Linked DNA regions of Homo sapiens. The protein of the gene in region 2 purifies or fractionates together with the protein of the main gene of each other region. This does not show direct contact. Each region holds a gene or a part of one and is shown on either strand. Other genes may lie near its edges.

Evidence for each region. The genes of interacting proteins can lie anywhere in the genome.
Region 1: the proteins of EYA4 (region 2) and GLO1 purify together in Homo sapiens (affinity purification with mass spectrometry, with the first as the bait; one large-scale study listed by BioGRID). This does not show direct contact.

What each region holds. Positions count from the first base shown.
Region 1 is NC_000006.12:38,675,425-38,679,145, forward strand, and holds the end of GLO1 (lactoylglutathione lyase), read right to left. Parts: intron 1,960-3,721; coding exon 1,871-1,959; 3' UTR 501-1,870; downstream 1-500. UniProt on the Homo sapiens protein: Catalyzes the conversion of hemimercaptal, formed from methylglyoxal and glutathione, to S-lactoylglutathione. Involved in the regulation of TNF-induced transcriptional activity of NF-kappa-B. Required for normal osteoclastogenesis.
Region 2 is NC_000006.12:133,510,357-133,513,856, forward strand, and holds part of EYA4 (protein phosphatase EYA4), read left to right. Parts: exon of another isoform or gene 1-370; intron 371-2,364; coding exon 2,365-2,423; intron 2,424-2,521; coding exon 2,522-2,682; intron 2,683-3,500. UniProt on the Homo sapiens protein: Tyrosine phosphatase that specifically dephosphorylates 'Tyr-142' of histone H2AX (H2AXY142ph). 'Tyr-142' phosphorylation of histone H2AX plays a central role in DNA repair and acts as a mark that distinguishes between apoptotic and repair responses to genotoxic stress.

The DNA.
Region 1 (3,721 bases), about 95 Mb from region 2:
GAAAAAAATCCCTGTATAAATAAACCAGTGGAGTTCAAACCTATGTTGTTCAAGGGCCAACTGTACATTTAAAAAAAATGCATATAGGAATGAATTTAAAGAATGAGCAAGGGCTATCTTTTGGCAAGTTTTACTCAGCAAGTGGAGAAGGCTTCTTTCCTTGGAAATAAAGCTTAAATTACTGAATTTGTGAATGTATTAGCCCTCCCGTTTGTCAGTTCTAGCACTCAACATGTGAAATTGGTCTTCATAAGTTCCTTACCTTTTGATATTCTTCTGTTTGCACTTTATCTACCACAATCCTTTATTCCGTATTCACTTTCTTCTTCCCACCTTTCCCACACTCCCTTATCCATAGACACTACCTGCTTTACGGGCTGTACAGAATCACAATTGTTCTCTCTTCAGAATGAGCCTACAAGCCTTTTCAAATCCTTTCAGTACTCACTAAGGGGAGTTGTTTTTTTTTTTTTTTAAAGAAAGAACATGATGGACAAAGGTTTACAAATTAAACATAGTCTTATTTGAAGTTTCATTTTATTTCAGTCTATAAGTATTGCTATTTGTTTAAAGCACTCACATAAATCCATTTCACCCAAAAAGGAAACATAAAGTGCTTCTAGCAGTACAAGCACGGTTGGCATGGCCTTTCCAAAGGTCTTCCACTAGAGTCTAGAGAAATCTAAATATAGTCATCCACAAACTGGATGTTTTTATTTTCTGAGCCATTAGAGATTTTCAAAATCACTTTGATTTTTAAAAACTCATCAAATGTGAATCATGGCGGGGAAGACCACTGAGCTGATTTCTGATAACTAAGTTATCACTGAACATAATTTATCATATATGGCTACTGGCATCATGAAGACCTTGGGATAGGGAAGACTCTTTATGAGAAATATAAACATCACTTGTGTAGGAATCACCAGGTGTCCCTAGAGCAGTTTTGTACTAAAGACTTCTAGTGTTTACTCCCTCACCACGGTACTCCAGCCCAAGAGCCAAGAGCACAATGGTCAAACTCACTGAAGGTTTTTACAACAGGAAACCAGTGGAGGTATTGTGAGGTACTACAACTTTGAGGCACAATCTAAATACTAAAAATGATTATGAAATCTTGAGTTGAGCTGATTGATGCCCTCTTAAATCCATTAATAATCCATGAAAGTGATTTCACATGCCTAGCCTGCTTTCTTTCTCACATGACAGCTGGGAGTATTAAATGAGATAAAGTTGCAGCCTAGCCCAGTGTCTGGGTACCATATCATTTCCTTCCTCCTCCCCTTTCCCAAATAAATAAGGTTAGTCCTTGAACTTTAAATGTACTTTATAATAAGAAGAAATCACTTTTTCTATCAGTATCCTTGTCAGCATGATTTGAATTGCTCTCAAGAGTACCTACTCTTTTGTAAAATAAACACTTTGTACTTTACTGAAAGAACACTAGTGTTCTTTCCTTTCCGTTGTGAAAAAAGTTGTTTCTGAGGAATTGAAACCCCAGAAGATAACTACAACAAAAACATGTTAATTTTTTTTTAAAAATGATGATTCAAAGGCAGATTTGAAGGGAAGTAATATTTAGGTGGCAGAAGAAGGCAAATGCAGCCTCTGAAGGGAACTGTTCTAATTATTACCTAAAAAATAAAGTTACACAACTATATTCAAGGACATGAGATAAAGCACTGCTTGAAAACCAGAATGACTGAACAGTTAGGTGAAAAGGAACAGCTGAAATAGGAAGGGGAAATGGACTGAAGAATAATTTGAATCGGGACAGTGATCCATCAGTCCTAGATGCTTCTGGTATGTAAATATCTTGAATCACATTGTTTCCTTTCTTCTGAAATCTCAAAGGAGAATTCTCACAGCACTACATTAAGGTTGCCATTTTGTTAGGATTCAAAATTTCAATCCAGTAGCCATCAGGATCTTGAATAAATGCCAGGCCTTTCATTTTACCTGTAAAATGAAAATTTTCATTATTGAAAAGACTAAAAAAGAAAACACCATAAAAATGTTTTTCTTTCTTTGAGACAAGGTCTTGCTCTGAATGTCAGGCTGGAGTGCATGGGATGATCATGGCCCAAGGCAGGCTTGACCTCCTGAGCTCAGCCTGCCAAGTAGCTGGGGCGACAGGCACGCACCACCTTGCCTGGCTAATTTTTTGATTTTGTAGAGGCGGGATCTCAATGTACTGCCCAGGCTGCTATCAAACTCCTGGCCTCAAGCAATCCTCCTGCCTTGCCTCCCAAAGTGGTGGGATTACAAGCACAAACCACTGCACCTGGCCTTAAAAACTTTTATTAATTAAAGATTTACTTTGCATTTTAATGAAGTACATTATTTTGTTTACAGTTTTAAATTTTAAAAATTCTTATTGTCAGAAAAGTATGAAAAGTCATACTTTTCATAATGACTAAAATGTTATCTTGCACACATTGCAAATACCAGCCCTCCTGAAATAAACTGTGGGACTGGCTGCATCTTTTAGGTATCAGGCATTTGCCTCACCTTCATGATACCACACTACCAGTTCAGTAGTTACAGAAATTGTCTTATTTTAAAGAAGAAAAAGAAAATAGGGAGGTGCTGAAGGGAGCTGGTAGCATGGCTTACCCCCACAACCAAAAGACCCAGATGCTTGGGTCATACAAACCCTTTTAAATACTATCCTAGGCAACCCAAGCTCTGCGAGAGTCTTTCTCCCAGGAATTCAAAACTGAGATTGAGAGTCTAGTATGTCAGAGCTGTTTGCTTAAATGGAAAAATATGACCTCAGAAATTTATTTGGGGACCATTATGTTGAATTGGTTTGACTCTTATCTCTGCCTCCTTTCTCCAAGATCAATCCTAGAGGAACATAGATGGAAAATGCAGGAAAAAGAAAGAAAGAGAGAAAGAGAAAGAGAAAGAGAAAGAGAGAAAGAGAGAAGGAAGGAAGGAGGGAGGGAGAGAGAGGAAGGAAGGAAGGAAGGAAAAGAAAAGGAAAAGAAAAGAAAAGAAAAGAAAAGGAAAGAAAGAAAGAAACCCGGCTGGTGACAGCTGGGGAGAATGGGTGAGGATGGGGCCGGGTGACTGTTTTAACTTGGGCTGTGTGGGAGGTGGTAGTTCTGGCCTGGACCAGAAGGCAGTGCATAATGGCTGCGAGAGAACAGAGTTTTGCTCTTGCTCCTCCCTCACTGCTGTGTGCATCGGCACCTGCCCTCTCGCTTGTTCAGATGTCCTTACCAGTAAACAAGGGCAGTGCAGGAGCCTTGTGCTTGTGAGAAACTGAGAAAAACTGGTAGGGCCGAATGATCTCCCCAGCCCTCTCTCCACGCCCAGGGCTAGGGAATAACACTATCGGAAGTGTCTCCTACTAATACTCTTCCCTGAGGGATGAAGTGGGAAGATCCAACCTGAAGAGGTGTTTTGTGGAAGGTGAAATAAATTTAAGTCTCATTTCTAGGTGCCTAGGAATCTCTGGCCTAGGCTTATCCAGCCCATTGTCCTGAGATCATGTGGGTTGTTAAGGACAGGGATCTGGCCATTCTCCTATTCACACTGCTTGATGTGTTAGAATAGCGAACAGTTGCAGGGGAAAAAAGCTCAGAGGCAAAAAATAATAATTTGAGAAACATAACCATAAAACACCCCCAAAGCAATGGACTGTAGATTCAAACAGAAGAAATATTAGAATAATGGACCAAGAGCTATTTTTGTTTTTTTTCTGGAGACAGGG
Region 2 (3,500 bases):
ATGTGACACCATTTCAATAGTGATTTATTTCAGTCTACGGACTTTCCAAGTATGTCACCATCTCTAAATAAGAAATAATCTCATCATTTAGAACTACTTTGGTGCCTCCATATTCTGGGAGAAAAACTTTATTTCCAACCCTTATGCTAATGGGTAAAATCTCTCCACTCTTTTCCTTAAAGCCCAGTCCAGCAGTTACTATCATTGCTTGCAATGCCTTTACTGGATGTTTTTCAGGAAGCATAATGCCTCCTTTGGTTACAGTTTGGACTGCACTCCTTTCAGCCAATACTTGGTCAAAGAGGGGAAGACATTTTCTAAATACCTGTCCGGCCAGGCCATTCCTTGGGCAGTCTCTGCACTCTTCTCTCTCCCTTCCTTCCACTCTTGACATAAATATCTTCTTACTCTCCTCACCATTTAGAATGCTTTTATTTTATATCATCGTAACCTTGTGTTAGAAAATTTAAATGATTGTGGTAATCCTGTAAAGAATTAGCATTTGTCTAGACTTCTCCCATTTATTTAAGAAAGAATTGTGGAGTGATTATTCTATGCTAGATTGTGCCGTAAGTGGGGATGTAACCTGGTGAACCAAATGCCGCACTCCAGGGCACTTCCAGTCAGATTAAATTTGGGGACCCATACGTGTAGGTGGAGATTTATTCAAAACTTACTAACCCTGTAATTTCTGTAAATTATATGAACTTTTAACTTACCTGGATTTTCAAGTTACATACTCAGAAGGTACTGATTGGGCTAGTCACTGAGTTTTGTATATTAAAGGAAGCCTGAGTCAACTATACCTTTAAACTGGAACCGGATTAAACACTTTCTGTGTGGAAATCTGGAGACTAGGTATGAAATATTTGACTGCCAGATACTTTCAAGCCCAATAATGAATATAAATAGTAGCTTTCAAAAAACCTTTGTTTAGTATGGTGTATTTTCAAATTTAATGATTTTTTTTAAAAATTAATTTTGAATGCTAAGCACTATGTATATAGTCAGAAGCTGTAAGTATGAGTAAAATACTTTGAGGGGGACTAAGGAGGCCCAAGATGCTAAACCATACTTACTCTGAGGTTAATATGATGTAGTTATTTATTATAAATAATTTATTTTTATTTATTATATATTTATTATTCTGAGAACTAGGCATTTTAAATGCCCTCACCAAATTTCACCTTTAGATCTTGTAATATTGCGCTGGAACTTTGCAGATTATTTGAAGATGGACTAAGACTCAGAACAGCAAAGAAGGATCAAATCCTTATCCACATAAGTTACCATTTGTTCTGAGCACACAGTAACTTACAATCAGGTCAACTGTGGCCGGGCGTGGTGGCTCACACCTGTAATCCCAGCACTTTGGGAGGCCGAAACAGGCGGATCACAAGGTCAGGAGATCGAGACCATCCTGGCTAACACAGTAAAACATCATCTCTAGTAAAAATACAAAAAACACAAAAAAATTAGCCAGGCGTGGTGGCGGGCGCCTGTAGTCCCAGCTACTCGGGAGGCTGAGGCAGGAGAATGGCGTGAACCCAGGAGGCAGAGCTTGCAGTGAGCCGAGATCGCGCCACTGCACTCCAACCTGGGCGACTAAGTGAGATTCCATATAAAAAAAAAAAAAATCAGGTCAATTGTGTGGGTATACTTACATAAAGTTTATTTTGCTTGGAATTTTGTAGCACATTTGAGATGATAAATCGTCATTATTTCCCTTTTACTTAAAAGTAGTCTTTTTGATTTGAAAATTTAAAAACTTGACAAAAAGAAAATGTCAATATCTATGATCATTACCCTTTTTCTGTGTCAAAAGACTAGGACCTTGAAATAACACCAGCATGGTTCTTTCATGGTTCTGGTCCAGCAGGAAGTCATGGAAATTCCACAGGACACCATAATCTGAAGGCAAGCCCCTCTGTTGCCACTCAACAAATGATAAATAATAGTAACCATCTGAGGTGTTCAGACTAAGTTTTGTGTATCTTCAGATTAGCCATGCTTAAGTATGCACAACAGAAATGGCCTGGAAGGGAACTCAAATGCTTATGAAGATTCAAGAGAATTTCTTATCAATAATTTTAAGATTAAAATTTTTAAATTGCTCTAAAGAAACTCTCATGCCGTATATTTTCTCACCCCTCCTTTCTATGGAACTCTTCTGGATTTAAATTTTGTGGGGTAGAAATGGTGCCATTTCCCAACAGAAGAAAACAAGAGTGAGGCAATGAGATGGACGGGCACATGCTGCCATCTTCTGGTGGTAGTCTGATCAGATGAGAAGATGGGAAAACCTTCAAGCATGGTAACAAGCATCATTTAGAAAACAAATAACTTTTCCAATGTTTTTAACAGGAGTGTGATCAAGTTCATATAGATGATGTTTCCTCTGATGATAATGGGCAGGACTTAAGGTAAGCTATGCCTTTCAGTATGCTGTTTCCTACAGAAATTCGGCTGTGGAGTTTTGCACATGTAATTATTTCTTTTTAATGTATTTTGGGTGTTACAGTACCTACAGTTTTGCAACTGATGGCTTCCATGCAGCTGCAAGTAGTGCAAACCTTTGTTTGCCAACAGGTGTAAGAGGAGGGGTTGACTGGATGAGGAAGTTGGCTTTTCGTTACAGAAGAGTAAAAGAATTATATAACACCTACAAGAACAACGTTGGAGGTATGTGTGGCTTTTTCAATCTAACAAAGGTACTCTGGGTATAGGTAGAATTCAATCTGTAGTTTCATGTTAAAGATGATTCTGCTGTAAAAGAAACAAGCAAAAGCTCATATTAAACCACATTGAGCCAGAAGTTTCTTAGAATTGGTGGGAAAAAATTTAACTACAAAATAAAACATGCACCACCGTCACATAAATTGGGAATTCTTTGTGTAACCTTGTGCCCAGATGTTTGGTCAAGATTTATACCAGGGCATTTAGTTGACCCTTTATCAGCTGGTGCTTGGAGCATTATCAGTGAAAATCAGACAGAGGAACTAACCGAGGCAACAGAAAGAAGTCCTTTCTCAAGTAGAGAGCCTCAATCATTGAAGGACGGTGGTTAGCAAGCATTATCTTTCTGGAATCCCATCAAAAATAAATATAAACAGTTATTAATGTCATTTCAAAGACTTTCAACAGGTTTATTTTATCTTTTAAAAAAATCATGTTTTATGTCAGTGTATCATTCTCATGCATAGTGTCAACTATGATTATCATAGTTTTTAAAAGTTCAAATAATCTGTAGGTAATATCAAAACCATTTTATACCCCTTCATATATTTTACAGGTGATATCAAAACCTTTGCTATCAAAACTGTGATCCTGGATGTGCTTCTATATATAAAATAAACCTTGGTGATATCTTATTAGAATCAATTTTAGGTAAACAAGATTCCTAAAATTTGCTATTAGGTCACATCAGATTAATCTCCCAGGATTTTGTTTCTTTATGTGCTTCTCTTTTTTTCTAAAAAGGAAGAGTAATTGAGGAACAT